Linked DNA regions of Homo sapiens: regions 2, 3 and 4 are each linked to region 1. The links come from fine-mapping of genetic effects on gene expression. A gene starts in region 1. Each other region holds a variant in brackets. All regions are shown on one strand. Distances are from middle to middle.

Region 1 (8,259 bases):
AAAAAAATCAAAATTAAAATACTAAATCATCCAGGCATGGTGGCTCACGTCTGTAATCCCAGCACTTTGGGAGACTGAGACAGGCGGATCACCTGAGGTCAGGAGTTTGAGACCAGCCTGGCTAACATGGCGAACTTCCCCCCAACCCAGCACCCCCATACCAGCCTCTACTAAAAATACAAAAATTAGCCGGTTGTGATGGTGCACGCCTATAATCCCAGCTACTCAGGAGGCTGAGACAGGAGAATTGCTTGAACCCGGGAGGCAGGTTGCGGTGAGCCAAGATCATGCCACTGTACTCCAGCTTGGGTGACAGAGCGAGACTCTGTCTCAAAAACAAAACAAAACACTAAATCACCCAAAGGAAAGAAAGCAACAAAAAACTTACATGCTGCAACCAAAGAAGAAAAAAGTACAACCTTATAATGTAAAATTTGAGAATTGATAGCAAAAACAAAGAGAACAGAAGATTCTATGGAGGCGTGCTTTGTCTCCAGATGAACCTATGTCTGCCCAGCCCTCCACCCACCGCTGCAAGACATGTTGAGGAAAAAGATGATCAGACCAAATCCTAAGAATTCTCACAAACGTCCCCCAATGTGGAAAGGCAGGGCACACCTGTGAGATGTTGAGGAACCTTTGCATACCACTGTTGGATCTTGCCAGAGGCAGGAAAGTTTCCCACTTTCTGGGATACTGTGCTGAACTGAGCAAATGAACTGAAACTCTGAGGCATGGGATGTTCCCTTGGCTAGCTTGAAGTCCAGCTGCCAGAGGACTTAAAGGAATCTCAGATGTGAAGGTTGAGTTCCTCCAGCAAGCTTTATACTCTGTCTGAGCTGAATTCCACACATCCCCTTTTCCCCCACCTCTCCTTGTCCGAAAAACCTTGGATCACAGAACAAGTAGATAGAAACAACATTCAGCCCTGAAAAAGCAGCGTATTCAGATATATAATATACATGGGACATTAGAAAAGAACATAATCTATAAATTGGAAGATCATACTGTATGCTGGGGGGAAAAATTGATCTAGAATAACTGACACAGAGGCATAGCCCAGATAAGAATACTAAAGGGTATATTAATGTTAAAGAATTCTTCAGGTATCCAAGCAGAAAAATCAAGCCACCTCCAAGGGGAAAATTACATGGGATTAAGATCTTTCCACAGAAATCTTTGAAGCATTTCTCTAATGACCAGTAATGATGAGCTTTTTTCATATGTTTGTTGGCCACATAAATGTCTTCTTTTGAGAAGTGTCTGTTCATATCCTTTGCCCACTTTTTGATGGAGTTGTTTTTTTCTTATAAATTTGTTTAAGTGCTTTGTAGATTCTGGATATTAGCCCTTTGTCAGATGGATAATTGCAAAAATTTTCTCCCATTCTGTAGGTTGCCTGTTCAGTCTGATGATAGTTTCTTTTGGTGTGCAGAAGCTCTTTAGTTTAATTAGATCCCAATTGTCAATTTTGGCTTTTGTTGCCATTGCTTTTGGTGTTTTAGTTATGAACTCTGCCCATGCCTATGTCCTGAATGGTATTGCCTAGGTTTTCTTCTAGGCTTTTTATGGTTTTAGGTCTGATGTTTTAAGTCTTTAGTCCATCTTGAGTTAATTTTTGTATAAGGTGTAACGAAGCGGTCCAGTTTCAGTTTTCTGCATATGGCTAACCAGTTTTTCCCAACACCATTTATTAACTAGGGAATCTTTTACCTATTGCTTGTTTTTGTCAGGTTTGTCACAGATCAGATGGTTGTAGATGTGTGGTGTTATTTCTGAGGACTCTGTTCTGTTCCATTGGTCCATATATCTGTTTTGGTACCAGTACCATGCAGTTTTGGTTACTGTAGCCTTGTAGTGTAGTTTGAAGTCAGGTAGTGTAATGCCTCCAGCTTTGTTCTTTTTGCTTAGGATTGTCTTGGCTATACGGGCTCTTTTTTGGTTCCATATGAAATTTAAAGTAGTTTCTTCTAATTCTGTGAAGAAAGTCAATGGTAGCTTGATGGGGATAGCATTGAATCTATAAATTACTTTGGGCAGTATGGCAATTTTCATGATAATTGATTCTTCCAATCCATGAGCATGGAATGTTTTTCCATTTGTTTGTGTCCTCTCTGATTTCCTTAAGCAGTGGTTTGTAGTTCTCCTTGAAGAGGTCCTTCACATCTCTTGTAAGTTGTATTCCTAGGTATTTTATTCTCTTTGTCGCCATTGTGAATCAGAGTTCACTCATGTGTTGGCTCTCTTATTTGTCTACTATTGGGGTATAGGAATGCTTGTGATTTTTGCACATTGATTTTGTATCCTGAGACTTTGCTGAAGTTGCTTATCAGGTAACATCTCATGCCAGTTAGAATGATAATCATTAAAAAGTCAGGAAACAACAGATGCTGGAGAGGATGTGGAGAAATAGGAACGCTTTTACGCTGTTGGTGGGAGTGTAAATTGGTTCAACCATCGTGGAAGACAGTGTGGCAATTCCTCAAGGATCTAGAACCAGAAATACCATTTGACCCAGCAATCTCATTACTGGGTATATACCCAAAGAATTATAAATCATTCTACTGTAAAGACACATGCACACGTATGTTTATTGAAGCACTATTCACAATAGCAAAGACTTGGAATCAACCCAAATGGCCATTGGTGATAGACTGGATTAAGAAAATGTGGCACATATACACCATGGAATACTATGCAGCCATAAAAAAGGATGAGTTCATGTCCTTTGTAGGGACATGGATGAAGCTGGAAACCATCATTCTCAGCAAACTAACACAGGAACAGAAAACTAAACACCGCATGTTCTCATTCATAAGTGGGAGTTGAACAATGAGAACACATGGACTCAGGGAGGGGAACATCACACACTGGGGCCTGTTGGGGAGTGGGGGGCTAGTGGGGTAGGGATAGCATTAGGAGAAATGCCTAATGTAGATGACGGGTTGATGAGTGCAGCAAACCACCATGGCATGTGTATACCTATGTAACAAACCTGCCCGTTCTGCACATGTATCCCAAAACTTAAAGTATAATAAAAAAATAAATAAAGCAATTGCCATCTTGTTCTGTTAGGTTTTGAAGGAAGGTGTGAATTGAAAATATTTACCCAACTCACTTTTTATTTATGTATAGAGAAAAACACCAGATCTTCTCAAACATGGCAGCACTCTATAAACCCTCCTTAGGAATATGACTTGAAAATGAAGGAAGTCCATCAAGAACTAAATAAAAATAAAAATTCAGGGATAGATAAGTTACAGTGAATATCAAATTCATTTAAAGATAGAATTAAGACAACATCTGGAAAAATAAAGTTGCAGAGCAATTGCAAATGTTCTCATTGCTAGGAAGCCGAAAGTAACAGAACTAATGGAAATTGAGAGGCAGGGTTACCCCCTAAAGGTAGGTGGAGGTGTATGATGCTAATTAACCTCATCTTTCAGAGCTATGAGACTTTCTAAACCCGAACATGTAGTGAGCTCCTTACACCTCTCTTAATCTTTTTACGTAATGCTTATAGGCCTTTTAAAAAGCACGTCTTTTAGGGAAGAAAGCAATAGAGATTCCCTTCAGTTTATTTTTCTTAAATTCCAGTAACATGAAAAATTTGAAATTATATGAAGCAGACGTAGTGTGATACCGTAATTAGAAAATTACTTCTGTCTACCCTTTCTGCGTCTTCGTTTCTTCAGCTGTGAGACGGGTATTTCTCCCAGTGTTGCTGTGAGGATTACACGTATTTACCTGCAAAGTGCTTAGGACAGTGCCTGGCTCACGGTCAGTGCTCACGTTTGGGCAGCTGCACTTGGGCGCTGCTGGCACAGGAGGTAAGTTAGTTTGGCCTATTGCAGCGTCCCAGCATCTGTCGCGTTTCTCATGTGTGATTGGGCTCTGGCGGCCCATCCTGGCGGAGACTTCGGCTAGCAGGCCCCGCTGCAGACCCCAGGCCGGCTCGGGTCTACCTGCGCCAGCGCTGTACCTGGGCGACCTTGGCTTTGCCCCCACCGGTGACCCGGCCCGCAGGACGTGTGGGTGCCGCTCAGCTCCCCCCGCCTCGGCCGCCGACCCCCAGCTCCCCGGCGGGGCCTCCTCCTGCCACGTGACGCCCCCGCCAGGGGCCCCAGCGCCCTCCTCGCGGCCGCGCCGTTCCGGCTCCCGAGCCCCGCCTGCGCGCGGCCTCCTCGGCGCAGCCATCCTCTTGGCTGCCGCGGGCGGCAAAGCCCACGGCATCTGCCATTTGTCATTCAGCCCGTCGGTACCGCCCCGAGCCTTGATTTAGACACGGCTGGGGCGTGCTCTGGCCTCACTCTCCGGGCGGGTGCTGGACGGACGGACGGACGGGGCAGCCGTGCTCACAGCTCAGCAGCGCGGGGCCTTGGCGCGCGGGGCGCTTCCCCGGGTCGCCGTCATGGCCGCGGAGGTGGCACGCCCGAGCGGCCTCGCCTGAGCTCCGGGGGTCGTCGCCCCGCAGGGTAGGTGTTTGGGTGCTCGCGGCTGCGGCGGGCGGGCTGGGGGCAGCGGTGGCCGTGCATTGCCGCGCTGCGAGGACGGCGCTGGGTTCGCGGCCGCGAGGAGGGTGTGCCTTTGCCGCGCCGCCTACGTGCGGGTCCGGGCTCCGCGGGGCCGGGTGCGGGACCCCGCAGATCGTCACCCGCAACCCAGGCAGCCCCACCGCGAGTGCCGCCGGACCCCCTGGACGCCGCTGCCAGAGGCGTTCGCGCCTATCTGGTATGAGGTCCACAGACCCGATTCTTACAACCTGGCGCTCTAACCTCGCCAACGGGCCAGGAAAAAAACAGAACAAGGAAAAGAAGAAAAAGTCTGTTCCAAGTAATAATGGGACTAGACAGTAACTGTTTGCACTTTCGTCTCTTATGGAAAATATGATTATTTTGATGCTTTAGTATTACAGACTGTATCAGACATACTCTTAAAAGTATTTAAAAACGTGGGGTCCTAAAAATTTCCTAGATCGGGACAGCTGATAATGCGACTTCTGTTAGTCTCCGCATCCAACTTTCAGGGCGGAATGGGGATTTCTACCTTTTACTGAATATACTCCTGTAATTTTGAATATTTTTTCTCATCAAATGTGTTACTTTCATGTTTTAGGAAACCAATAAAAATCAAAAATAGAAACACCCAGCTTAGGTCCTCCTTCTTCCAGGAATCCTCCTCTAACCCCTCCCTCCCAGGCAGGATCGGAGGCCCCTCCCGGGTGCTTTCTGGGGCCTCACTGAGGTCCTGGTCCCCTAAGTCCTCCCCCGCAGCCCCTCCGCGTATTAACCCACCGGTCTCGCTGGGCTCAGAGATTGCTTACTTAGCACATGGTAAGTGATTAATACTGTTTAATGACCGAGGGAAAAGATAAAATGTTCTCTGATGTTTCACGCTTTTCGCTCTGAAGTTAAATAGTGGTAAATTTATATGCGCTTAGATAAGAACATTTAACAGTTAAGGATCTGGAAAAGTTGACGACGTCCGATGTCCGTGTTTCCTGATCCAGCAGTTGCACGCCTGGGTATTCATCCTTAAGAACAATGTTTTTCAGAATTTGAAGTCCATTTTAGTGGGTCGTAAAGTCATTTAAATGGATGATCAGAATTTGTAAAACACAGACGGAGAATAGAACATCAGTGTCTCTCAGGTCATAGGGGTGTTCGCTTTATGAATCTCTCTCCCCCTCCTCAGTTTCATACATACACAAATGTGTGTCATGATGTAAAACGTCATTCCTTAGTATGAGTCATGGACAAAAAAGTTTGAAAGCCACTGCCCTAGATAAATTTTAATACATGTCCACAAGCAGACGTGTACAAGAAGGTTGACTGTAATGGCAGAAAACTGGATGCCGCCTTCATGCCTACCTGAAGGAGAAAGATAAATTATACACCACTCATAAAAAGGGCACACTGTACAGTGGCCAATGAAGTATTTTTGTGTTTCAACACAAATGCCTTTCAGTGTTGAACCAAAAAAAAAAAAAGTTGCCGGAGAATGCTGTGTGATATCTTCTATGTAAAATTCAGAACCTGGTGGAGCAAAGCTGTTGTTTAGGGATGCATGTATAGGCATTAAAAGTAGTAAAGAAAAAAAGTCAAGCTAATGGTCATCTCCTAGTGGGGAGGAGAGGGTCAGGGGCTCAGAGATGCTGGAAATGCTTTATCGCCTGACCTGTGCAATGGTTACATGGGTGTTTGCTTTGTAACTCTTTGTTAAATGATACACACTGGGTTTGAATGTTACATTTCCCCCCAAATATGTTAAAATATGGGTGTTGCAAACTGAAGAAGCCTGAGTCTAGGGCTCTCCGTCTGTTATTCTTATTTCCTGGCTTCTTTTTAGAAAAAAAAAATCTTGCTCAGGGAGGAGTACCTAGGGAATTTATCAGTAATGTTTTATTTCATAAATTCCATGGTGGACATACCAGTATTCATTAAATTATTCTTTATGTATTCTTATAACTTAATTTATAATATTTCAAAAAGCATTTAGGAGAAAACATCATTTGGTGTGTTTGCTTTCCCAAAAGTCACATTTACATGTTTTGTACACAACTGGAATATTTTATATAGTAATTTTAGCTAAAATCAAATTTTGTTATGAAAAACGAAATACTAAAAAGTATATAAAAATCACAGAACTTTACAGACTTTCAGCGTTTTAAAATGCTAACATATTGTATTTACCTCAATAATTTCTGTTCCTCAGTTCTTTCAGGCCACATTTTTAGTGCTCAATAGCCTCATATGACTTTAATATTTTATTATATTTTATTATGTTATATATTTTACATTATACATTATAGAACAGAATATTTCCATCATTGCAGAAATTTATATTGGAAAACATTCTGGATACAAATATTTGTTATATACTTGCAGATATTAAACTGTAGACATTAATCCTTATGCTTTTTGTCTTAAGATACTCTACTATTAATGAAATGTATTCTGAATATTTTTCTAAGAATTTTTAAGTTTATGTTTTGTCCACATTTTGTTCTTTAATTTACCTGAGACATGTATATATTGAGATGTATATATTTTATGTTATGAGATCAAGCTTAATTAATTTTCAGATTCCCACATGAAAAGGTAATTGTCCCAATATCAGTGATTAGCAGTGCCACTTCTGTCACATACAGTACCCAGATATGTTTGGGCTTATTTCCAGGCTGTTAATCCTGGTTTATTTGTCATTTGAAAATACTGCAGATTTTCATTTACTGCTGCTTTCTATGTAGTATATTGTTCAGTTCTAAGAATTTAAGATTTTTTCATTGTGATATTTTTTCTTCCCCTAAGAGATTTGTAGAAAGTAGTCTAGTTCCAATGTGGAAGGTTTTGTGAGTTATCCTTTTGTTACTGATTTCTAATTTGCACTGTAGTTAGCATACGTGTCAAGGCCAACAATTCTTTGAAATTCGAGAATTGCTTTATGGTTTTAACTGCTCCTTGTATCATCAAGAATAATTTGTACTCACAGACTTTTGAGGCAATGTATGTAGGTGTGTGTATATATATAATATATACACATACACTTTATATATAGATTATATATAATCTCTCTGTAGAGTTTATATAAAAATTAAATATATTTATATAAATGTATATATATATATGAATAAAATCTCCTGTCTCTAAGGTTTATGTTTCATTAATTCAGGAAAGTTTTGTCTTTTATCTCTTTATTTTCACACATTTTTGTCCTATTCTTTAGGAGCTATGATTAGACTTCTGTTAGACTTCCTCACTCTATCACCCACATCTTTTAAGGTAGATTTAATGTATTTAATATATTTTTTATCCATGTTGAATTCTACATATGTTTTTTAGTTCTATAATTTATGTACAACAAAAAAAAGTGTGTAGCTTGGTGAAATTTACATATGTGTATACCTTTGTGATTACTACCCAGATAAACATATAAAACATTTTCATTCCTTCTGCCCCTTCCTATCAATGGAGCCACTCGCTTCCCCCAGTCAACTACTGTCCCGATTTCTATGACCATGTATTATTTTCAAATGTTTTTAAACTTCATATAAACGGAGTCATACAGTTTATTCTTTTGTTCACATTGTATTCATCCATGTTGCATGTATAAGAATTTTTGTTTGTTTTTTATTTTTGCTTTGTATCAAGGGTTGGCAAACTATGGCCTGTGGGCCAATTCCAACCCACTGCATGTTTCTGTTTATAAAATTTTATTGGGCTGTGTTCCATGGCTCCTGTCTATAATTCCAGCCAGTCA
Region 2 (8,259 bases), 310 kb after region 1:
ACTCAAGTGATCCACCTGCCTGGGCCTCCCAAAGTGCTGGGATTACAGGTGTTAGCCACTGTGCCCTGGCCTGTTTTATCACTTCTTGAACTTTAACTTAGTGGAATTACACAATATAATCTTTTGTATTTCTTTCACTGAATGTCTGTGAGATTCATCTATAAACTTTTTTCCCTTACTTGGTTTCTGGGAAAGCTAATCTACTTCTCTACCATCTTTTGATGTTGCCCTGAAGCCATGATAAATTAGAATTTCACCGAAGCAAGATTAAAGGTAGAGCAGTAGTTTATTTTCTGTAAAAAAAAAAAAAAAAAAAAAAAAAAGTTGTATATATATTCTTACAATGCATATTAGAGCACTCAGTAGTTCTGAGCAATGTAATTTATAAAAGCACTGGGTTACAGTGTTATCCACCATGGGACAACTATCATGTTTAGTACTTTCACATTATGCTATATATTAAAGCCCTATATATAAGGAAACTGGGAGCCAGGAAGGCTATCTGGCTTCCCAAATTGTTAACTAGTGAAAGAGATAAGAGTCTAGGTCACCTGATTCCTGATCCAGGCTTATTTCCCACTATACCAGGCTGTCTCCATTGGCATATGATAGCTAAACTCATGGTGAACCAGCAACACTCCTAGTAGCTCTAAAATAGCAGTAAGACTATTTGTAAAAAACAAAAAAGCAGGCTGGGTGCCGTGGCTCACGCCTGTAATCCCAGCACTTTGGGAGGACGAGGCGGGCAGATCACAAGGTCAAGAGATCGAGACCATCCCGGCCAACATGGTGAAACCTCATCTCTACTAAAAATACAAAAAATTAGCTAGCTGTCGTGGTGCGCACCTGTAGTCCCAGCTACTCTGGAGGCTGAGGCAGGAGGATCGCTTGAACCAGGAAGGCGGAGGTTGCAGTGAGCCAAGATCATGCCACTGCAATCCCTTCTCAAAAAAAAAAAAAAAAAAAAAAGCAAAGAAGACATTGCACAATCAGGACAAGCAATAAATCTGTGTTATTGTTCTGGGTTTTGACCACCCAACTGGGATGGTAAACTGTAAGCCAAGAAGAGAGTTGGAGCCTAGTTCCAACTCTGCTACTTAATCAGCCCTGTGACCTTGTGCTAGGATCCCAATTTTTCATTGCTGAAATTAGGAGACTAGGTTAAATGATCTCTAGGCTCCTTTCCAACTTTAAAAATTCTATGACTTCATATTGCTTTGTGCTGAGTGTATCAGTCTTGTAGGTCACATTAAGACCTATTCTATTACTTGATATTTTATTATGCTAAAAAAAGGACCTGTTCTAAGTGCTTTATCAATACTGCCTCTTTCATCATTACTACAACCCTGCGAAGTAGTTGCTATTAGTATTCCCATTTTATAGATGAGGAAGTTGAGGCTGAGAGACCAAGCAACTAGCAAGATCCCACAGCTGGTAAGCAGGATTTAAACTCAGGGAGTTTACCTCCCAAGTATTCCCTGTACAAAAATGGGGAGGAGGGTAGTGGGTGGGAGTGGATTTTTATTTTAAGATAAGGCAAGAGATAAACCCTAATGAGTAGTAACTCAATTCAACTCCCAGCCACTTATTGGGCTAATCCAAGGAGTTAGGGTAGGTACTGTTTTGCTGTCTAAAACAATGCCCAGTGTCATCACGGTTAATTTCACGCTGGCGGCAGGCAGTGTACTCTATACTTTATACTGACTAAAGTAATTTGATTGTACAGAATCCTTATTTATCATAATATTAATTTTAGAAGTTTGATACTATCAATTTTTAAACTTGTTTTTTTAACAGAGGCAGACATTATTTTTAAACTCCCAGAGGGAAAAGCTACTAAAGACTTCCATCTGCCTGCAAGCACTGACAGAGAATTCCAGAGTTTAAACTTGTGGCCAACAGGCCTGCAGAACGAATATGTTTGTGCAGCTGCATGACATCCTGATTCACTGACATGAACAACATCCCCTAGACTTGCTACAGGATATTTAACAGATTAAATAAAGTCGCTCTTATTTGGGGTTTACAGAAATTCTGATTGAGTAGGCAAAGGGCCACTTTGCTAATGGAAAAATCAATTTTAATGTAAATAAAAGCATTTTACGTTTTGAATGCCACTGTTATCGCTACAAGGGAAGGGTTGTCTCTATGAACAGATAGGATGACTGCTTAGGAATAGCAAGATGTCGCTACAGAGAGGAAAAACGTGACAGGAATCAACCAACAACCTATCTTGTTCCCCGTAGATGTTAGTCATATACAACAACTCCCGGAGTCTGAAGTGGAGCAGGTCATGGTGTGTAGAGTGTGTGCTGTGTTTGTGAAAAGGAAGAAAAAGCTGATATATCCCCAATGGACAATCTGCCAAGTGAAAGAATTTCAACTCATCCATGATAGGATAATGATCACCCTGTTCATGCTGGGAATGTGCGTCAGCACAGAACTTTAGGGGAGAAGCTGGTAGACCTTATATATAATTTGTGAAATAAAATATACTGAAATATCACAGTTCTCCTCTCGCCCCCCCTCCCCACTGCCCCCAATCAATGGAGTCTCGTTCTGTCACCCAGATGGAGTGCAGTGGTGAGATCTCAGCTCACTGCAACCTCCGGCTCCTGGGTCCAAGTGATTCTCTTGCCTCAGCCTCCCGAGTAGCTGGGATTACAGGTGCATGCCACCATGCCTTGCTAATTTCTGTATTTTTAGTAGAGACGCGGTTTCACCATGTTGGCCAGGCCAGTCTCAAACTCCTAAGCTCAAGTGATCCGCCCACCTCAGCCTCCCAAAGTGTTTGGTTTACAGGCATGAGCCACCGCGCCTGGCTGAAATATCACAGTTTTTAAGTAAGGGGCTAAATTTTGTTTCAGACAAAATTATGAAAAAATTCCCATTGAGGATGAATGTAACACAAATATTATTAAAATAACACATTAAATCTAGACCAATATATTTAAGTCGAAAGGCTGGTGGATAAATAAAAGCCCAGAGAATATATATAATGTGACTAACGTTCTCTCTATGTCCAAGAGCCTCCTGGCAGTCATACAGGGTCCCCAAGGCCGGTATCTGTGGAGAGACCGTGGCCACATGTAGTATCCCGGACAATCTCCCCAAGGCAGACATGAAACCTGCAGGCATGTACTATGGAAAACAGGATGCTGGGAGATCCATCCCATGGAGAAGAATTTATGTCAATTAGTCATACGGAGTCCCCAAGGCTCCCAGATTTACGTCCTTATAGCTCAGTTAAGAGATGACTGCAGCAACCCAGGCATCTGAACTTGGAGAGAAGGAGCGAAAAGGGACTGGAAATGATGGATGATCTGAGGGACACTGAGGAGAAAGAAGAGAGGAGTCTGAGGAACTGCCTGAGAACTCCATGGCCTGAACCTCTACAAGGGTATGGCTGGATGTCAAGAAGAGAGAAGATTTGGAGGAGAGACCTTTAGCTTGTATTCAGGCACCATGAACTTCAGGTGCTGGCAGAACATTCAAGGGAAGATGTCCAACGGACAGTCAGAAATGCATTACTGGCACTCTAGCAAGAAGCTGGAGTTGAAGTTATTTGGTGGAGTCTTCTAAACAAAAGCAGCTGTTGAGGACCAGGGGTAAACTCCTAGAGAATGATTACATTTAGGAGCAAGTGGGCTTTGCACAATAAAGAACGTTGAACTCCTTTGGCATTGAGAATGAACAAGTAAAGAAAAAGGTTTTGTTTGCTGTTTGTTTTAAGTTCATAAAGTGTGAAGGACACTCAAGCAGGTTCATGGGCTGAGGAGAAGGAGCCCTGGGTGTCGGGGTGTTGAAGATGCAAGAAAGAAGAAGGGCTGCAGAGCTGCACCAGCCAGGATGTCAGACCAGCCACACGGGGACTGCATGGGGACTGAATTCCTTCAGGTCATAGCGAGATTTGGGGTGGAGAGGGAGAGTCTGAACTTCATCCAGTGAATATGAGGAAATGACCAGGAAGTCAGGAGATGACAGCACCAAAGAAATGTGAAGGAAAACTCAGCAGACGGCACCTACCTCAGATGAGGGCATGCACAAGACTGGACGCAAAATGAGCAGGGAATAGCACTGGGGAGTTGATGCAATGTCAGCGCCCCCTGTGATAGGAGAGGTAAAGGACAACAGAGCCACCATTGAAGAGAATTACCAGGGCAACAGTGTTGCCAAGGAGACCCAGGGTTCGGACAATCCAAGGGAGAGGAGGAAGGAGATATCTGCAAAAATAATGAGGCTGTAGAAAAGTGTGTTCACTGTGGAACGGAAACATTCATGCACAATTAACTGAGCAGCTATTATAGAGGAAGGGCTACAATGGTAAGCAAAAACAGATCAGATCTCTGCCCTTAGGAGGCTTGCAGGCCATGAGAGAGGCTGACATTAGTCAAACAACCATCCACCCAAACGTAGACCTGCAGTGTGTAGTGAGTAGGAAATGTGGGGGACCCCAGAGGCTCACACGGTGGTACTGTGGCATTAGTTCCCACGGCAGACATAGCACAAGATGGCCTCCAAATTATGAGTTAAAATTCAGGGTAAAATTGTTTGAGGGCTACAGAGGTTTAGTCTAGTTTCATAGCATTGCCTAAAAGGTAGAAATATCCTATGCAAATTAAACAGGAAACCATTTAAAAGCCACTGAAAAGCAAAAGATTAACATTCCTTGGTTTGTACACCTAATTCTCTTGAGAGAAACAATTCCACTAGTTGCTTTTTAAAAAAATAATTTTATAATAATGATGCCTTTAGCATTGATTTTATACTTTTTCTAAC[A/G]TAGTTATTGAGGATGCCCCACTTGCGAGATGTTCTATTTTGGTTTCTTTCTTTAAAATGACAGGTGTGTTAAGCAAGCATTCCAGAGAATGAGTTGCTCCAGCAGGATTTGGATAAAACACACACAGAAAGCCTCTGAATCCAATTAGAGCACCATCAAACCAACTAGCTTATTCCAAAATCCTTTTCTAATATAATTTTTATTTAGATTTTCAATACTGGTCTGAAGAAACATTGAACATGTTCTAGAATGATGGGAAAAAGCCCGTAACAGAACCTCAGAATAGCCAGTTGCAATTCACCAATGTTTTCAGAAACCATAAAAATGATTTTTAATTGTTGTTGTTATTAAGTGAGTAGGTTAAAAAAAAGACTACCTCTCTGAGAAGCAAGAAAAAATAATACTTCTCACCACTAGATTAGGAGTCCCATGAGGACAGGGAGCAAGTTGATTTTATTCCTGGTGGTGCCCCTATACTGTACTTAGGCCACAAAAAGGTCCCTAAAAATATTTACAAAAAGAATAAGTCATGGGTAAATGTGGGGCAATAATTTACAAGGCCTAGGCTATGATTTATTTTAGCAGGTCTTTAGATTTTTCACAGAGGAAATTGTTTCCAACAGTGCCTTCCTGTAGAATTCCAAATATTTTGAAAGATAATATAACAAACACTAATGTTTGAAATTGGGAAAATATCAGAGCCAGCAGGAAGGATGATTAACACTCATAAGAATGGTACAGACATTGCTGACACAGTTTTCAGGTAAGCAAACACTTAATTGCTCTTTACAAGGTAATTGAAAGACAATTCATCAAAGACAAATAATTGAAAAACAGCTGGAATAATTTATATGTGAAATTGTCTTTTAAGAAGTTTCTATTTTCACCCGGTGATGAGTGGTGAAAATTAATTTCTTCAAGAGCACTCTCTTTGTTAACATTTCCTTCTTTCTCATCTCAGATTTTTCTTCAGTCTTAACCTTCTTTCTCCTAATTGGGGAAGCCAGAAAAGCAATTTTGTTCCATGGCAAAGAAACAAGAAAATAAGTTACCTAACTAAATTGGAACTAAATCCAAACTGCTTTTGTTTTTTCCATTCTCTTTAGGCATCACACACGAGAATGTGAATCTCTTAGAAAACAGTGGAACAATATAGAAAACTATAAAACCATTTTAATCTGAAATTAAATTCTTTGATAATATAGCATTATGACAGATGTTCAGTTATGTGGCAATATTTTAGGCTTTCAATTAACTAAATATATCGGAACTACAAGGTAGAACTACCTTGCATAATAGCCCAGTGTTGTGGTGGCAAACATCTGACTCTACAATGTAACATGTTCAATGACGAGGAATCATTCTTTAAGACTGGCAGCCAGCAACAAGTTTTTATTCCAATTTAAACAGAACACACCACCTCTCCTATCTCACCTTTCCACTGTGAAGCAAATATCTCCTGTTAGAACAGTACCCTAAGGGGAGCAAACACAAGTGGAGAGAGGGCTGACACTTAGGTATTTCCACACTAAAGCTTCCAGAGAAGAAAATGGTTTGTTTTGTTTAACTCTTTAGCTATGTGTCACCCTGATATGACTTTGCGTATGCTTAAAAAATAGGAAATAGCCATTTAAATATAAACACAGACCTGTGAGTACTGCAAAGGAAAAACATGGGCTTCCAGTGCCAGAAAGATCTGAATGTAATAATCTGTTCCTCCCCATCCTAGCTGGTAACCTTAGGTCTGTAATTCAACCTTTCAGAGTCCCTTCCTCATCTGTAGAATGGGGTAATACAATTCATGATTTGGGTTGTGGCTACTGTTAATAGAGATAATACATGTAAGCAAGTGGAAAAAGGCTGATAAGAGGTTTTGTGGGGAATAAAAATGGAGAGTGGGTTATTTATGATTTGGAGCAATTGGGGCAGCAAAATTTCTTGGAAAAATATTTTCCTGGTCTTCTAGAGGTCTCCAGGAAAACAAAAATGCCCCCTGAAATAAATAAACTCCTGTATACCCACCCAAAACAGTTACCTGCATTCTCCGTTGGTCTCAAGATAATTGCTGGGAGCTGCTAAAACCAACTAAGACTCGAGGGAAATCCCCACTACTCTATAGCAGAAATGCCCTGGATTAAGGAAAGAAACTAAGCAAGAAGGTTGACATCATATACAAGAATGAGAGAGGAGCTAAGAGTTGGACGTGGCTCTATTTCCTACCAGCTGGGAAATTGCGAATTTTTTATTTTTATGCTTGCACCTGCAAAAAATAAAAAATTTTAAAAATCAAACCAACAAACATAAAACTATTTTATAGAAAAGGCCAGTTGCTTACTTGATTAATACAACGCTTAGTAAATCAAGGTGAAACTGATTAGGCGCTATTTAGTCAGATACAAATTGTTGTTCCTTTTGGTTTTTAAAAATCCTGCACCGTATAAGATGTGTTGCTACGGCTGCTAAACACAGGAAGTTGCATTTTACTGTTGTTTCCACATGTGCCTAATGTCACAATCTAAAGAGAAAAGAAAGATCTGTTTTATGATTCCATTAACTTCAGATATTTTAAGTAAAGACCACCTATAAATTCAATGTAGATGACAAAGTCCCAGAGGATTCTTGATTATGAGACTCATGTTATCCACTGGACTGGCTAAGAAATCATTATCAAAGGGCCCTCTGTTTATTCTGCCCTTCCCTTTTAAAGATCTAGCAGGAACCTTATGCTCATTCCCTTTGCCTCTAGGACTGCAGTGCCCAGCAATGAAAATAAACCTGGACTGGCACTGCAAAACCACAAGCAATTAATTAAATCCTTATCAGTTATTTCCACTGTCTATAGTAAGACGCCATTTTTATGCCTTAGGGTATTGAATGTTGAATCTGAAATAGGGTCTTGGATCCAAGTGTTCTGTTCTCAACTTGGAAGAACACCAATATTCTATGACTTTTAACCTTCCTCAGATTGAGTGCTCAGCATATTCTAATCTGCAAGATGCCTTAAAAGTCTACAATGACAGAGTCACAACTAAAGGGTGTAGAGGTTTGGCTAAGAGCTTCTGCATGCCCTGATCCCCATGCCCAATCCATCATAATCTGGATTCGGATCAGGGCCTAAGAGAAGTGAGTCTTGTTTGCAGCCTTTGTAGAATGCTTGTATCTCGCCATCTCAAGGCAATTCCTGGTCCAAGAGATGCCTATAAAATTAAATAATTTCTGAGGTTTAAGGAGAGTTTTAATCATTTTACAAAAGGACCTAGGGTCACTAGATTCTGATGCACCCAATTCTTATTTGTGTGCTTAACCAGCTTGAGGGACCTTTTTCAATAAAATAAGGAATTTTGAACCTAGAGGAGGTGGGTGTGCTGTTGAAGCATTATCTTCACGTTGACAAGATAAGCAGTCCACCAAAACTGACTGCACCAGTTAAAAGTTTCCTGTGAGATTTACGAATTGATAGGAAGACATCATTGGAAGCC
Region 3 (8,259 bases), 300 kb before region 1:
TCCACCCGTCTCGGCCTCCCAAAGTGCTGGGATTACAGGCATGAGCCACCGCGCCTGGCCCCAAATTGCTTTATATATGTTAATTCACTTACTTTTTACAACACGAGGAGGTTGATGCTATTACTATCTCTACTTTACTCAGGCACAGAGCAGCTAAGCCATTTGTCCAGGTTCACAGAGCTAGCAGGTGGCCATGCTTACACCCACAGCACCTGATACTGTCTGAACCATTCCCTAAAGTATTTCTACAGAAGAGTACTAATAAGATTTTTAAATCCTGCAGGATTTTTCTTATTATTCTTTTCAAATATTGTGTAATCTAATACCATGCCATCCTTGATATCTAACTCATTTTAGAGATAAAAATGCTTACCCTAAATACCATCATATAATCTATATTTCTATAACCCCAACAGCAATATTGCAGGTTAGAATCCAAGTGTGCAGAATATTTGTGAAGATCAGTGTAGATAATACTGAAATGACAGTGATGAGGAAGAAGGTACTAGAACACAGCCCTTCCCGAGCACAGCTCGCACAATTAAGCATTAACAATTAGGTTTTCTGGAGCTTAGAAAGTGATCAGTGTGAGGTCATCTAGTCCATACTCCTTACCTTACAAACAAATCAATTAATTGTGCAGACAGCTTGAGTGACATATTCAAGGTCACACAGCTGGTGATCTGCAGAGCTAAAACTGGAACCTAGTTCCTCTTTGACACTAAGCTAAGCTCTTTTTTTAAATAGGGCATCCAGGTTTTCTAGAATTTAGCAATTAAAGCAGTGATTTTCAAATTGTGTTCCAAAAGACATGAAGGACCCTCAGAAGCCTGGGTTGAGCTACTCACCTGCCAGTCCCACCCCCCAAACTCTGCTGTATAGAAAGCCACATCCTACCTATCAGCAATGCATCGTCACATTCCTAAAATGAGCCTCCACTGGAAGACTTGTTTGCAGAAAGACTTCCAAGGCAAAAATAAAAATCACATAACCAAGTGAAGTATTCGCATCGTTACTTTCCAGAGCCCCATAACCTGGGACCTTTTAGAGTGCTTAGTAATCTGAAGAAAGCTTCTTACGCCAGAATTCTTCCCCCAGGAAGATCCTCATCATTTCACTAAATGGGCATTTTCATGCCAACTAAAAATGTAATATAATCACACAATAAAGGGCAATCTTAGAAGAGGAAAGGCAGTTGGCAACCACGCTGACAAATATCTATACTACACTGACCTCAGTCTGCTCATTTCATGACTGCCTGTTGAAAACAACATCAAGTGATCGATCTGTCGTGAGCATCTGGGAAACACAGTCAAAGGCTGACATGCAGCTAATCAATCGGGACAATAAAGATCAACAAAGATTGAACTGATATTTTTCTCAGGGATTGCACACTTGTTTGTTTTTTGTTTGTTTGTTTGTGTTTGAGACAGCATCTTGCTCTGTTATCCAGGCTGGCGTGCAGTAGCACGATCTCAGCTCAATGCAACCTCTGCCTCCTGGGTTCAAGCGATTCTTGTGCCTCAGCCTCCCCAGTAGTTGGGATTACAGGCACGCCCCCCACCCCCCGCCACGCCCAGTGATCCCTGTCTCCCCACCTCGGCCTCCCAGGTAGCTGGGACCACAGGCATGCACTACCATGCCCAGCCATTTTTTTTTTTTTTTTTTGAGACGGAGTTTCACTCTTGTTACCCAGGCTGGAGTGCAATGGCTCATCTCAGCTCACTGCAACCTCCGCCTCCCAGGTTCAAGCGATTCTCCTGCCTCAGCCTACTGAGTAGCTGGGATTACAGGCATGAGCCACCATGCCTGGTTAATTTTGTATGTTAAGTAGAGACAGGGTTGCTCCATGTTGGCCAGGCTGGTCTCCAACTCCCAACCTCAGGTGATCCGCCTGCCTCAGCCTCCCAAAGTGCTGGGATTACAGGCATGAGCCACTGCACCCAGACCAATTTTTATATCTTTTGTAGAGATGGGGTTTCACTATGTAGCCCAGGCTCACACTTGTGGAAAGCAATGAAAAATGTGATTTGCTTCTGCACACGTGTATTTATTGAGCACATACTATGTGTCAGGCACTGTTCTAGATACTAGTGATTCAACCTAGACAAAATACCTGCATTCTAGTGGAAAAAGACAATCAGCATAATCCAGTAAGTGCTATGGGAAAAAATGAAACAGGATAAAGTGGGTGGAGAGGGCTAATGAGGGAAGGATTTGCTATTTTAATTGACTGGCACAGTAGCTCTCTGAGAGGAGGGAGTTAGCCACAAGGTTATCTGCTAGAAGAGGGCTCAGGCCCTGACCTGGGAGGTGCCTGCCTCATATAATGAGCACAAACTAGTAAGGGGAGATGAAGCCAGGCAGGATAAACAGGGTCCTGTAGATCACTGTAAGGTCTTTCGCGTTTATTACAACTGGAATGGGGAGTCACTGCAGACTTGGAAACCTGAAGCAACATATCCACTTCTGATTTGAAAAGGATCCCTCTACTGTGGGGTTCAGACCAGCCTCCATGGGCCAAGGGAGGAAGCAGAGAGACAAGTAAGGAGGCAATTCCAGAAAAAGCAATGGTCCCCTAGACCAGGACAGTAGCAGTGGAGATCGTAAAATATGACCGGATTCTGTATAAATTCAGTATTAGGAAAATAGAACCAGCAGGATCTGCTGCATTGGATGTGGGTATACGAGAAAGAAAGGACTACAAAGATGACTCCAAAACTGGGGCAATTGGAAGAATCACATTGCCTTTATCTGAGACAAGCAAGACTGTGGGATCAGCTTTGGGGTTTACGGGAGATCAGGAGTTCAGATTTTCAGATCTGAACATAGAAGATGTGAAGTAAACAACTGGAAATGCAAGTATGCAGTTCAGAGGAAGAGGTCTGGGCTAGAGATAGAAATTTGAGCCAGCATTCAGATAGTATTTAAACCAGGATACTGGTGAGATGACAAACGGCAACAGTGGGGACAGAGAGGAGGTCCAAGGACTGGGTCCTGGGCCCTCCAACGTTAAGAGGAAGAATCAGCAAAAGATAATGGGTGGGAAACCAGGAGCGTGTGGGGTGTCCTAGAAGCCAAATGAAGAAAGAGTCATGGAGGAGGGAGTGATCAGCAGTGTTGATGCTATTGAGAGGTGGAATAAGGTAAGGACTGAGAACAGGCTACTGGATTTAGCAACAAGGAGGTCCCTAATAACTTTGACAAGAGCAGTTTTACTGGACTGGTAGGGGGTCTGCCTGATTTGAGTGGTCTTAAGAGGGAATGAAAGGAGACGAACTGCAAATGTTGGTACATACAATCTTTGAGGAGCTCTTTCATAAAGGGGACCAGAGGAATGGCGTGGTAGCTACAGAGACAGGTGGGATCAAAGTAAAGTTTTGCTAGAAGAAAAACAATAGCATGTTTGTAAGCGGATCCACTAAAGGGGAAATCATAGGGATGCAGAAGAGAGAAGGGAGGTGACTTTGAGTAAGTAAAGGAGGATGGGTACAATGTACACGGTTAGGGTGGCCTTGGGTGGGTTCTGGTTGAGGATAGATGTGGTATTGAAGTTTCTGGATTCCTCTTTGGTTTGCTTCAATTTTCTTAGGGCAAGAGTAGGCAAAGTCAGCCGGGCATGGTGGCTCACACCTGTAATCCCAACACTTCGGGAGGCTGAGGTGGATGGATTGCTTGAGCCCAGGAGTTTGAGACCAGCCTGGGCAACATGGTGAAACCTCTTATCTACAAAAAAAAATACAAAAATTAGCCAGGCGTGGTGGCACATGCCTATAGCCCCAGCTACCCGAGGGTGGGAGGATTGCTGGAGCCCAGGAGGCGGAGGTTGCAGTGAGCCATGCTAGTACCGAAAAAATGGGACGCTTAAATTCAGATGACAGAGGGGCTGCCACCATAAACAATGACCTGGTCTAGCCAGAATATACCCACCACACTGGGAGACAAGATCACTAGAAAGAGAACTTAGAGAAATTAAGAGGACAGAGTATTAGAAGGATCATCAATGTTTACACCCAAATCACTAAAACAAGAGTAACTTTTAGAGAGAGTGACAGAGCTAAACTCACTGAGAAATGAGAGTGAGCGGTGGAGGGAGGGAGTGACATCTCACCAATTAGGTTGAGTTGGTGATGCAATCCGATGGCAGGAGATTGCAGCTGGGGAATCTGGTCTGAATGCGGAATGAGGAGCAAAGGGCCATTATCTCTCTCTCCTGTAGTAGGAGAGGGCTGGGAGAAAAGAACCCACACAAAAGGCAGTCACAACAAACATGTCTACACTTTGACAAAGAAATTTCTTTTGATGTCAGAAAAAATAAAGCACTGTGATATCCATTCCACCTGAGCTTGATGAAGCCCAAGTTTCATTAATTAAAAAAAAAAAAAACTGAGGCAGACTGTTAATTAGTAATCTATGTCTGATTATTTGCCACTTTTAGCAACAAAAGGGAAATATTCATCAACAAATAAAAATACATTATATGCAAAACTGGGTCAAACATTATCAGAAATTTTGCCCTTCAAACTTTGTGTCTTCTCAACCTAATTCTAGCAATCAGGTCTTTTGTTTGAGTGGCTTTAAGGCAGTAGAAGTAAAGTAAGGACCAGAATTTGAGTTACAGCAAAAGTGTGAGACCCTCAGTTCGTGCCAGCGTATTGGACTGCCAATCTA[A/G]TTTCAGAAAAAAAGAAACATTATGAAGACATAACCCTATAATATGTCACTCTTCCTCTAACAAGACTTAACTTTTCATTAAGTCATAGGTCTCCTTTGAGAATATAATGAAAACTGTGGACCCTTTTTCTAAGAAAATATGCAGAAACACAAGTGTAAAAACTTCTGCACATATTGCAGGATTTATTGTTAACCTCTTCTCTCCCTCCCCAAACACCCAGTCAGGCTAGGTAGAGTAATATCTGCAAGGGGGCTTCCTATGCCCTTGGGAGATAAATACAGTCAACAACTGCGGCATCAACTAATAATATCTACTAAAAAATATTACAAATCAAAAACCACTTCTTAATTCTTCATCTTCCGCTGCCGTCATCTACCATCCAGATGCTCATTTTAGGGTCAGTCAAAAATATCTCAGAAAATACAAAGATAAATAAAATATGCAACAGTTCTTGATTTTTTTTTTTTTCAACAGAGTCACACTCTGCCACCCAGGCTGGAGTGCAGTGATGTGATATTGACTCACCGCAGCCTCCACCTCCCAGGTTCAAATTATTCCCATGCCTTAGCCTCCTGAGTAGCTGGGACTACAGGTGCGCGACCCCATGCCCAGGTAATTTTTTTTTTTTTTGTATTTTTAGTAGAGGTAGGGTTTCACTATGTTGGCCAGGCTGGTCTTGAACTCCTGACCTCAGGTGATCCGCCCGCCTCGGCCTTTCAAAGTGCTGGGATTCCAGGCATGATCCACCACACCCGGCCTCTTGAATTTTTAACATTATCTTGCAAAGAGCTCAAAAAATGACTCAGGAAAGTACTCAAGACTCCAGCTGCCAGTTTTCAAGGGCAGACCCCAGCCCAAGCCAGTCTCATACATGTAAGAGAAATATATATATTACATATTTTTCCCAGATATCTCCAGGCACCTCAAAACTCAATCTAGAACTTCACTTACTATCCCCTTATGCACTGCCCTCTCCACAAAACCTAGAAAGAAAGGCTTCATTTGCGAGTGTTAAAGTCAAAAACCAGGCTTCTCTCTCCATCCCATCCACCACCCATCATCTGAAGACCACCACCATGTCCTATCAGGTCTGCCTCCTACCTAAAGCTTCTAAACTCTCCCCTCTCCTCCTTCCCAGCTACCTCAATCTCAGTTTTGGCTTCAATACCTCTTATCCTCTAACTGTGACAGCCACCCAAAGGTCCTCCAGAACCCCAGGCTTGCCTCATCCAGCACACACCCCACACCATCCATGCTCCACGTGGCTTCTAGAGCACCACTCAGAAGAGCAAATCTGATCAGATCAGCCCTCTGCTCACAAGCTTTCAGAGGAAGCAAGGCCTTCCCAAACCAGGAGTGAGAGAGAGGAGGCCATCTCAAGTAACCAAAAACACAGAGAAAAGGGAAAATAAAACAGAAAGTATGTAACCTGATATTACAGCTACGGTTTGTGGTGTGTGGTGTGTGCAGGGTGTGAGGTATGTATGTGTCAGGGAAGTAGTTCGGTGAATACTGCTCCTAGAAATTGGAAGCTTTTTTTATTTAATATGTCATATCTTTCAGACATAGAAATAGACAATAATAGGCAAAAGAAAATGGTACAAGGTCCATGACTGCAGTGAATCTCCTATCCAGATCTGCCTTTCAGGCAAGGCAATGCACAAATTCATTCCCCCAGCAGCTGAGGGCTCATAGCTGAGCATCCGTCCAGGAACTGCCCTTGGCCAAGTTACCTTGCCCAGATTTTCACCTCACCTCCTTCCCAGGGTCAGCCAAAAGCCTACTGGTCAAGGCAAAGGTCCCCAGGCTCAACACATTGCCTCAAGTTGGGAAATCTCTGAAGGGCCATCCCAGCACCAGCATTCCCTATGGATCCAATGGTGGCCCTGCTGTAACTCAACTACACTTCAGCTTTTCCCTGGCCCAGTCCTTCTTCCCTCATTTCTTTCATTAACAGGAATTGTTCTCAAGTGCACACAAATCTCTGTCTCAAATCCTACTTCCAAGGAACTGGGCTTAAGACAGTCATCACTCAGTTCACAAATCAGCATTATTTCATATTAATTTAAGATTCTATTTCTATTTTCATTGAGGAATTAAATATTATAGATAAAACTGAAGAACCTCCTCTCTCACTATCTCTAAAGAAATCTAGTGTTTATAATTTCCATAAAAATTTTTGTATTTTGCTATATATTTATAATATGAATACATAAACACTGCAGGGCAATTTCTGCAGGTATATGAGCTTTATATACAGTACCATTCAATACATTGTGCAACCTGATTTTTGTTTGTAGTCAAATTGTTTTTAAGATTTATCTATGCTGACATAATTAGCTCTTTAAAATACAACCTAAATCAAATACGTCAAAACATTACCAGCCTGGCCAACATGGTGAAACCATGTCTCTACAAAACATACAAAAAAAATTAGCTGGGCATGATGGTATATGCCTGTAATCTCAGCTATTCGGGTGGCTGAGGCACAAGAATTGTTTGAACCCAGGAAGGGGAGATTGTAGTGAGCCGAGATCGCGCCATTGCACTCCAGCCTGGGCAACAAGAGTGAAACTCCATTTCAAAAAAAAAAAAAAGTCAAAACATTAACAGCTGATAAATTTCAAATGAGGGCACGAGCATATCTGATATATCATTTCCTGTACATTTTTTTAGATTGAATACTTCAGAATTTTAAAAATGATAAATATATAAATATAAATTTTTTTAATTTTAAAGCCCTTTCAAAGATTCACCATTATGCTTAGGATACAACTCAAACTCCTAAAGATGGCTTATAACACTCTTCTCAGCTTCATTCTCCAGCATCCTGCTTTAGCCATATTGAAAACCTCACAATTCTCACCTCCAAACCTCTTGTCATCAACTCCCTCTGTCTTAACAGCCTCCCCACATCCCCACTCATTCTTTCAGATCTCAGCTTAGATATCCACTCTTCCAAGATGCCTTCCTTGAAGCCCTGGGATGTCAGGTACCACTCCCGTGAGCTCACACAGCAATCTGTGCTGTTTTTACTTTTACAACTGTGTAACTGCCTGTTTAATCTGTTTTCTTAAATTCCTGTGTACCTGCCCTCTCTAGGTGACAGACAGTCGACAACTGGAACTGTGTCTTATTCACCATGCGCCAATCCACAAGCCTAACATGTTGTAGAGGCAAGGCAACAAAGTACTATGCAAAAGTCTCTTACCGGCCAAAGCAAAAACTTGGGTACCACCAAGAGACAACCCAAGAATGCTTGCAAGTGTTTACAAATGAGAGCTTTTGTTTTTTCTTGAAGGTTAAGGGAACCACCATTTCTGAAATATCAGCATATATAGTAGATTTTAGTTATCCACTGAATGTAAAGAAAGATGAACTTACAAACAGTATGACAATAACAGCCTCTTCTTTCTTCTATTCCCAAAACCTCCACAGCAGAGCATCACATTAAGGAAAGCATTTGTTACCTGAATTATTATAATTTCTGAGCATCCCAGCTTTATTAACTGAACTCCAGGGCCCTTCTACCACTTAAGAATTCCCTAAATGTAAGATATTTCTCAACATCTGCTCCTAATTTATTT
Region 4 (8,259 bases), 28 kb before region 1:
TTTTTGTTTTTGTTTTTGAGACAGAGTCTCAGTCTGTCACCTGAGCTGGAGTGCAGTGGTCTGATCTCAGCTCACTGCATGCAACCTCCACCTCCCAGGTTCAAGCAATTCTCCTGTCTCAGCCTCCCAAGTAGCTGGGATTACAGGCATGTGCTACCACACAAATTTTTTTGTATTTTTAGTGGAGACAGGTTTTGCCATGTTGGCCAGACTGGTCTCGAACTCCTGGCCTCAAGTGATCTGACTGCCTTGGCCTCCCAAAGTGCTGGGATTACAGGTGTGAGCCACTGTGCCTGGCTACCTCCTAGTAGCTTTTATTTTTTTTTAGACATTGTTTTCTTTATTTTTATATTTCTTTATTTTTTGAGACTGAGTCTCCCTCTGTCACCCAGGCTAGAGTGTAGTGGTGTGATCTTGGCTCACCACAACCTCTGCCTCTCAGGTTCAAATGATTTGCCTGCCTCAGCCTCCTGAGTAGCTGGGATTACAAGCATGTGCCACCATGCCCAGCTAATTTTTGTTTTTTTAATAGAGCCAGGATTTCACTATGTTGCCCAGGCTAGTCTTGAACTCCCGGGTTTAAGCGATCCACCCGCCTCAGCCTCCCAAAGTGCTGGGATTACAGGTGTGAGCCACCGTGCCTGGCCTAGACCTTGTTTTAAGTAAGATATTAACTAGCTAAAACATTACTAAAATATTTTCTATTTTGAGTGCTTTGATTATGTATTTAGTACTTACCATGAACTTTGGAGTTCCCTGTAGGTCCCTCCCTAAGCCCTTCCTTCTTTTTTTCTCATTAAATGTTATCACTGTGCAGTATTTTTATATTAATCATTTTCTAACCTTGTTCATCATTTTCCCTGACATTTGTATATGTTTAGTTTTGCTTGTTGTTGAATGTTGTACATGGAATTATATGATATAAATTATCTGGAGGCTTGCCTTTTGAACCTAACTATAATTTCATCCATTTTTATTGGCATAAGGATGCCATTATGTGCCACAATGTATTAATTTTCTTGTTGATAGACCTTTTGGCCTTTTGCTACTACAAAGAGATTTGCTGTGAACATTCTTGCAGATATATCTTGGTGTACATATGCATAAATATGTCTAGGATTTATACCCAGGAATGGAATTTCTGTAGCATTTAGTATATACCCCTTTGTATTCACTGACTATTACAAATTATTGATCAAAGTGGTTGTGCTATTTAATACCCCTATCAGAAGTGTAAATCTCTCCTTGTCAACCTTTTCATTTTTGGGGTGTAAAATGGCATGTGATATTTTATTTGATTTTATTTTTGAGACACAGTCTCACTCTGTCACCCAGGCTGAAGTGAAGTGGCACAATCTTGGCTCACTGCAACCTCCACCTCCCAGGTTCAAGCAATTCTCGTGTCTCAGCCTCTTGAGTAGCTGGGATTACAAGCATGTGCCAACATGCCCAGCTAATTTTTGTATTTTTTTGTAGAGATGGGGTTTTGCCATGTTGGCCAGACTGGTTTCAAACTTTGGGCCTCTAATGATCCACCCACTTCTGCCTCCCAAAGTGTTGAGATTACAGGTGTGAGCCACTGCATCTGGCCAGCATGTGATATTTTAAAATTTCATTATCTGATGACTAATGAAGTCAACCATCTTTTCATTGGTTTCTGAGCCATTTCTGTTTATTCTTCAGTAAAACACCTGTTTATATGCCTTGCCCATTTTTCTTTTGGATTGTCTCTTCCTTATTTATTTGTAATCACTTTTTATAATTCTGGAATAGCAAACCTATCTCCCAAATTTGTGGCTTGTGTTTTTACTTTATGTCTTTCCCCTATCCCTGAGCTACTTCTGATATTTATTTTCTATATTACTGGCTCTCAGCAATTTTTATGATGTGTCTCTTGGCATGGTTTTCTTTTCTTTTTGTAAAAAACAACTTACTGAGATATAGTTCACATATCATACAATTCACCCATTTAAAATGGCTTTTAGTATATTCATAGAGTTGTGCATTTTCCACTATAATCAAGTTTATGACTTTTTCATTTAGTCATCATCCCCACTCCTTTCATCACTTTTAGCCCTAGGCAGTCACTAATCTACTTTCTGTCTCTCTAGATTTGGCTACTCTGGGCATTTCATATAAATGGGATCATATAATATGTGGTTCTTTGTGATTGATTTCTTCACACAGTATAATGTTTTCAAAGGCCACCCATGTTGTAGCATGTATCAGTACTTCATTTATTTTTATTTCCAAATATATTTCTTTGTTTGGACATGTCATTTTATTTATCCATTCATTGAAAAAAAACTATTCTTTCCCCATTGAATTGTCTTGGCATCCTTGTCAGAAATCTACTGGGTACAGACATATGGGTTTATTTATGGGTGCTTGATTCTATTCATTAATCTATAGCTAGCCTTAATGCCAGTACCTCATTGTCTTGATTACTGTAGCTTTGTAGTAAGTTTTGAAATTAGGGAGGATGGCCCCTTAACTTTGTTCTACTCTTTCAAGATTTTTTGGTAATTCTGGTTCCCTTGAATTTTCATATGAATTTTAGGAACAGCTTGTCAGTTTCTACAATGAAATTAACCAAAATCTTGATAGGGCAACCTTATGTAGTGAAGAAGCCTCACAAGTTCAAACAAACAAACAATAAGTAGATAAGTTTCAGTCGTATTACCGTCTTAACACATGTAGCTTTATTTTTTGTGCTTTGGAGTTTATTAAGATTCATAGATCTGCAGGCTTATCGCTTTCATCAGATGTGTAGCATTTTCAGCCATTATTTTGTCAAATGCTATTACTATCCTCCATCTGAGACTCCAACTACTATCTGTTAGACAACTTGATATTGTTCCCACAGATCTCAGAGACTTTGCTCATTTTTTTCAATTATTTTTCTCTTTGCATAGGTGGGAGTTAGTTCATTTTAGTATTACCATTTATTGGCGACAAGCGCTAACTTTTCTTACATTCTAAGGGGGGAAATTGTAGCCTGAACAATGAATCAAAGCAGTACTAAGTCTCAAGAGTACGTGCTTTTCATTGCAGAACCTTACTGTGTACATTTCTATGTACAATAGCACAACATCAAAAGCAGTAGTTTGGGTTTGGGTTTTTTTGTGAAAGTGACTATTTTGTAAACAAAGACAGTAAATATCTAAGAAAATATAGAAATAAAAAACATAGTTCATAATGTTGATATGCATTGTATTCCTTAAAAGAAATGAAACTGTCACCATCATGATCATTTTTCTTTAAAATATCTTCTAAAACTGCTTTGTTTTTGTTTTTTTTAGAAATGGAGTCTTGCTCTGTCACCCAGGCTCGAGTGCAGTGGCACAATCATATGATAGCTCACTGCAGTCTCGAACTTCTGGGCAAAAGCAATCCTCCCATCTCAGCCTCCTAAGTAGCTGGGACTACAGGTGCACACTGTCACACCCAGCTATTTTTTTTTTTTTTTTTTTTTTTTGGTAGAGATGGGGCTTCACCGTGTTGTCCAGGCTGGTCTGGAATTCCTGGGGTCAAGTTATTGTCCCACGTTGGCCTCCCAAAATATTGGGATTACAGATGTGAGCCACTGTGCCTGGCCTAAAACTGCATTCTGATATGACTTGTCACATGGCTTCTCATCTTTTTAAAACTTCTCTTTTAGGTAGTGATTAGCTCTGTTTTAGAGAGTTGTCTGTCATGGTGTCTTTCTGTTTAAATGGTTCAGTGGTCCTCTGGTCACAGCATAAAATTCAGTCTCAAAAATCAGTGTTGTATCAGGTGGACTCTTGCCTTTACATGTATACTTAATTAAAGCACTAAAATATCACATGCTTTTAGAGACACGCAGGCGTGCTCTGTGACAAGAGGCAAGCAGACTGTGCGAAGGAAAGATTTAAGATACTACCTTTAGTTTTCCTTTCCATGTGCAAATGAAGGTGGTGTAATCACTTTCTGCCTCTCTCCAGGGCATATAATTCATCACAGCAATGTCTGGTCCTTTTATGATTTGTCCAACACCAAGAACAAACCATTAGGGGATGGCCTTCATTTTATGCCAGAGTATTTCAAACCTGTTTAGTCAAATAGTGTCATAATGGGCATTTAGCAGGTCTGCCTTCTTGCTTGTCTTAGAGCAGTTTTCTGGAAGTTGCACAATTTCTGTTCTGTAGTTTCACTTTTTCCATTCTTTCCTCTTTCTTTCGTCCCTGAGTAGTGAAGAAGCCTCACAAGTTAAAACAAACAAAACAAAAAGCTATTCTGAATAAGAAACACAT[G/T]TTCCTAGAGTTGGCCCCTAGATGTCTACCACGCTCTTTCCAGCATGTCACTTGCACCCGGTAGCAGCCCCAGGACTGGAGTCCTGTCACGCGGCAGTAATTGTCCTGTCACAAAGTGCTGAGGGTGTGGAGTTGTGTAGCGGGTCCCCTTGTCTGGGCAGGCTCGGCTGTGGAATTTTTGCCCATTTGGTGTGGAGCATGTGCCCCTTTGGTACTGGGCATGTGGGCTGGCTGTCTTCAGTCACTAAGACTGAAGCATTGCACACTTGCACCACTTCTCTGCACAAAGTCTGTGTATTTCACAGCTGATTTCCTCAGGATTGTGTTATAAGGCTTGTGTTTCCTAAAATGAAACTGGCAAAGATGAAATAGCCTAAATGGACTGTTCTTAGAGTCAGAGGAAGTGGTTGTCATTTCTGGGCATAAAAGACTTCTCCTCAGGCCCCTAAGCATTAGTGAGCATTGGAAGGAGTCATTCTGGAGGCAGAGCATAAAAGTCGGCTTGTAGCTGCCCTCTGGGTCCACCTGGGGTGTCCTTGAAGCACTTTCTTGGGGTTGGAGTCCTGCATTGAGGGTTTCCAGGCTAAGCCACACGTAATCAGATGGCCATCCAGGCACAATAAAACCCAGAAATGCCCCTGCTCCTCCACCTCCTTAAAGAAGTTTCTCACCAGCCCACTCCAGTGATCCCTGAACTGCGTTTCTTTGCCCCACCAGGTGGCTACCCTTGATTTGAGGGCCTCTAGTAGTGCCAGAAATGTTCTTGACATTGTCATTTTTCTCATCAACCATATGAGATCAGTAATGATCTACATTACACATATTAAAAAAATGAGGTATCATATCTAGAGGCAAAAAGAAGAAAAAACAAGAAAATGAGGTAATTTGAGTATTGGGCATTTTGTTCTAGTCTCACCACTCATAGCAACAGGGATTTGACACAAAGCCTCTTGCCCCCTGTGATGGTTAATATTGAATGTCAACTTGATTAGATTGAAGGATGCAAAGCATTGTTCCTGGGCATCTCTGTCAGAGTGTTGCCAAAGACGATTAACATTTGAGTCAGTGGACTGGGTGAGGAGACCCACCCTCAGTCTGGTTGGGCACCATCTAATCAGCTGCCAGCACGGCTAGAATAAAGCAGGCAGGAGAAGATGGGAGGGCAGATTTGCTGAGTCTTCCGGCCTTCATCTTTCTCCCGTGCTAGATGCTTGCTGCCCTTGAACATTAGACTCCAAGTACTTCAGCTTTTGGACTCTTGGACTTACACCAGTGGTTTTCCATGGGCTCTCGGGCCTTTGGCCATAGACTGAAGGCTGCACTGTGAGCTTCCCTATCTTTGAGTTTTTGGTGCTTGGATTGATCTACCACTGGCTTCCTTGCTCCTCAGCTTGCAGGAGGCCTATTGTATGACTTCACCTTGTGATTGTGTGAGTCAATTCTCCTTAATAAACTCCCTCTCATATATACATCTATCCTATTAGTTATGTGTCTCTAGATAACCCTAATATACCCCCAACCCCCTGAAACATTTTAGTATGAAAAACTTTGAAATGTACAGGAAAGTTGAATTTTACAGTGAATGCCCTTATACCCACCACTAGATTCTATCATTAACATTTAACTGTTCTCAATGTATTACATACCCATCCATCAATTTACCTTATTTCCAAGTTAATACTCAAAGATTTTTGTCCAAACCTGAAAGCCTTCAGCTGTAGTCCTAGATCAGGCTCTGGGAGGAGTATTAGTCTACTCAGTGATGTTAAACAAAGCTGATGCTTTGTTCCTGGTTCATCTACTTTGCTTAAAGCTTGCAAAACTCCACAAATCTGAAAATTACTGTCAGCTATGTAAGATGACAGTCCCCTCCAAGGAAGATTTTTTTTTTCAATCTTAAAAGCTAGGGGGAAAACCTGATTTTTAGAATAAAATAAACTCCAAAGTTAAGTTCCATGTTTGATATTGTAGATGAAATTTTGGCTGTCCAAGGTTCATTATTGCATAATGACAATTTGTCGGGGCCTCCCACTTTTCTTTGCTGGAGGACTGAATTAGCTGCACACTTCCTTTCTGGCAGATGATTTATTGAACCCCCTGAATGAGAGGAGGATACAAAGGAAACAAATAAGTGTTTTATTTTCTTGAAGAGAAACAAACACTAAAAGGACTTGAGGCTTACTTAGTTAACAGGAAAACTGGAGAGGCTTAAGTCACTGCCCTTGGGATGAGTGTGCAGTGAGCCCCGTCTTCCAGTCAGCCTGGGGGCTGTGTGCCCAGCAGCCTGAGTCAGCAATCTGGGGCCTAGAGGCTTCAGTCCAGAGGGTGTGGTGTGGTTGGGGGGTTGTCAGCCTGGGCCTTGGCAGCTAGAGAAAGATGGAAGAGCCCTGGAATGAGGCACCCCAGGAGGGAGGCTGGGGTTCGCTAAGCTGGGGCACCCCCTCCTCCAACAACGTGGTTTTACATGTAAACACAGGTCATTCTTTTCAGCCCTGCATGGAGATGTAATTAACAGTATAAAAGACTCCAGGAAAATTGAAGTCTGCAGTTTTATATGTACTACATGGAGACCATGTCTGTAGTGTAGTAAAAGCATCCATGTGTTTTTGATTTTGCATAGTGTATCTTTCATCTCTAGCAATTCTATTTGGGTTCTTCTACATTCTTGAGTGTTTGGAGCACATTTATAATAGCTGCTTTTATGTTCAAGTCTCATTACCTCAGACTTAGAAAAGACCATTTCTTTTGACAGATTTTTTTCTCTAGTTATGGGTCATATCTTCCTGCTTTTTTGCATGCCTGATAATTTTTTGATGTGAAGGTAGACCTTGTGATTTTACATTGTTTTATGCTGGATTTTGTTTTATTCCTTTAAATAGTGTTGGACTTTGTTCTGGCATGTAGTTAAGTTACCTGATCAGTTCTAAACTTGGACATCTCTTTAGCTAAATATCCCAGTCCACTGTTTACACTTCTGGCTTTCCACATAACTACAGGACACATTTCACTAAGCTTTCTACTAGTATATAACAAAGATCATCCTTACTGCAGTTTCTAGTAATGTGTTCCTCATTTCCTTCTGAACTCTCACTGGTACCACCTTTCCTGTCTGTATTTCAGTTTGCTGAAGACAATCTAGGTTTTTCCATCATGTTTCTCAGAATTCTTCCAGCTTCTACCCACTCCCCAATTCCAAGGCTTTCCACATTTTTAGATATTTGTTACAACAGCACACCACTTCCAGGCAGCAAAGTTCATATTAGTTTTCTATTGCTGCCCTGACAAATTACTACAAACTTAGTGGCTTAAACCTGGTATTTATTATGCCCTAGGTCTGTAGGTAAAAAGTCCAAGCTGACCCTGCAGTAGCTCTGACATCGTCTCTCACCATTCTTTGTATATTCCAGGCTTTAGCAATTACAGGCAGTAGTCCTCATGTCACTCACATATCTGCGCACTTCTTGTGGTATGACCTTTACCTAGCATGCTCTTCCCATTTTGTTTATTTGCTGATGTCCTGTTTTCTAAAATTCATCTAATGAATAATTTCTTCTAGAAACTTGGGCTCTACTACTGAGTTCAGCTAAGTGACCTAAATCTGTGTGTCCATAATAGCATGTGGTCCTTCATCATCACTTATCATGCCATATAGAATTATCTATCACATGTCTATTGCCCCGATATAGTGTCCCTCTTAATCTCTTACCTCTCAGGGTTTACTTAGTAATTGCCTGGAACATAGTAGCAACCAAAGAATGCTTAGAATTGAACTAGGTAGGCTGGGCATGGTGGTTCATGCCTGTAATCCCAGCACACTGGATCACTTGAGGTCAGGAGTTTGACCAGCCTGGCCAACATGGTGAAACCCTGTCTCTACTAAAAATACAAAAATTAGCCAGGCGTGTTGGCATACGCCTGTAATCCCAGCTACTTGGAAGGCTGAAGCAGGAGAATTGCTAGAGCCCAGGAGGCGGACGTTGCAGTG

Which allele goes with the higher level. Positions count from the first base shown, and alleles are read on the strand shown. Sizes are in standard deviations (SD) of each study's normalised expression. Not every link is listed here.
For the expression in whole blood of the gene that starts at base 4,306 in region 1, allele A in region 3 goes with a lower level than allele G (large effect, 1.6 SD a copy in TwinsUK).

What was found. PIP is the estimated chance that this variant, and not a neighbour inherited with it, causes the effect.
Region 2: its variant is fine-mapped to the expression of PLAGL1 in thyroid (GTEx, PIP 0.92).
Region 3: its variant is fine-mapped to the expression of PLAGL1 in whole blood (TwinsUK, PIP 0.90).
Region 4: its variant is fine-mapped to the expression of PLAGL1 in whole blood (INTERVAL, PIP above 0.99).

The regions. Positions count from the first base shown.
Region 1 is chr6:144,004,306-144,012,564 of GRCh38, reverse strand. It overlaps PLAGL1 (PLAG1 like zinc finger 1), which reads left to right and starts at 4,306. Exons shown (of 8, transcript NM_001317162.2): 1 at 4,306-4,475. It overlaps HYMAI (hydatidiform mole associated and imprinted), which reads left to right and starts at 4,306. Exons shown (of 1, transcript NR_002768.3): 1 at 4,306-7,649. RefSeq lists silencers at 4,070-4,119, 4,310-4,499, 4,695-4,877.
Region 2 is chr6:143,694,838-143,703,096 of GRCh38, reverse strand. All of the region lies in intron 1 of PHACTR2 (phosphatase and actin regulator 2), which reads right to left. Among named protein-coding and RNA genes, the nearest start is that of PHACTR2, 21 kb to the right of the region's middle. The variant A/G (reference allele first, on the strand shown) is at 4,780.
Region 3 is chr6:144,303,945-144,312,203 of GRCh38, reverse strand. The region is part of intron 2 of UTRN (utrophin); the gene reads right to left. Among named protein-coding and RNA genes, the nearest start is that of UTRN, 23 kb to the right of the region's middle. RefSeq lists an enhancer at 5,996-6,115. The variant A/G (reference allele first, on the strand shown) is at 4,672.
Region 4 is chr6:144,032,635-144,040,893 of GRCh38, reverse strand. It overlaps a transcript of PLAGL1 not described here and the pseudogene LOC100131041. Among named protein-coding and RNA genes, the nearest start is that of PLAGL1, 29 kb to the right of the region's middle. RefSeq lists an enhancer at 4,284-4,333. The variant G/T (reference allele first, on the strand shown) is at 4,275.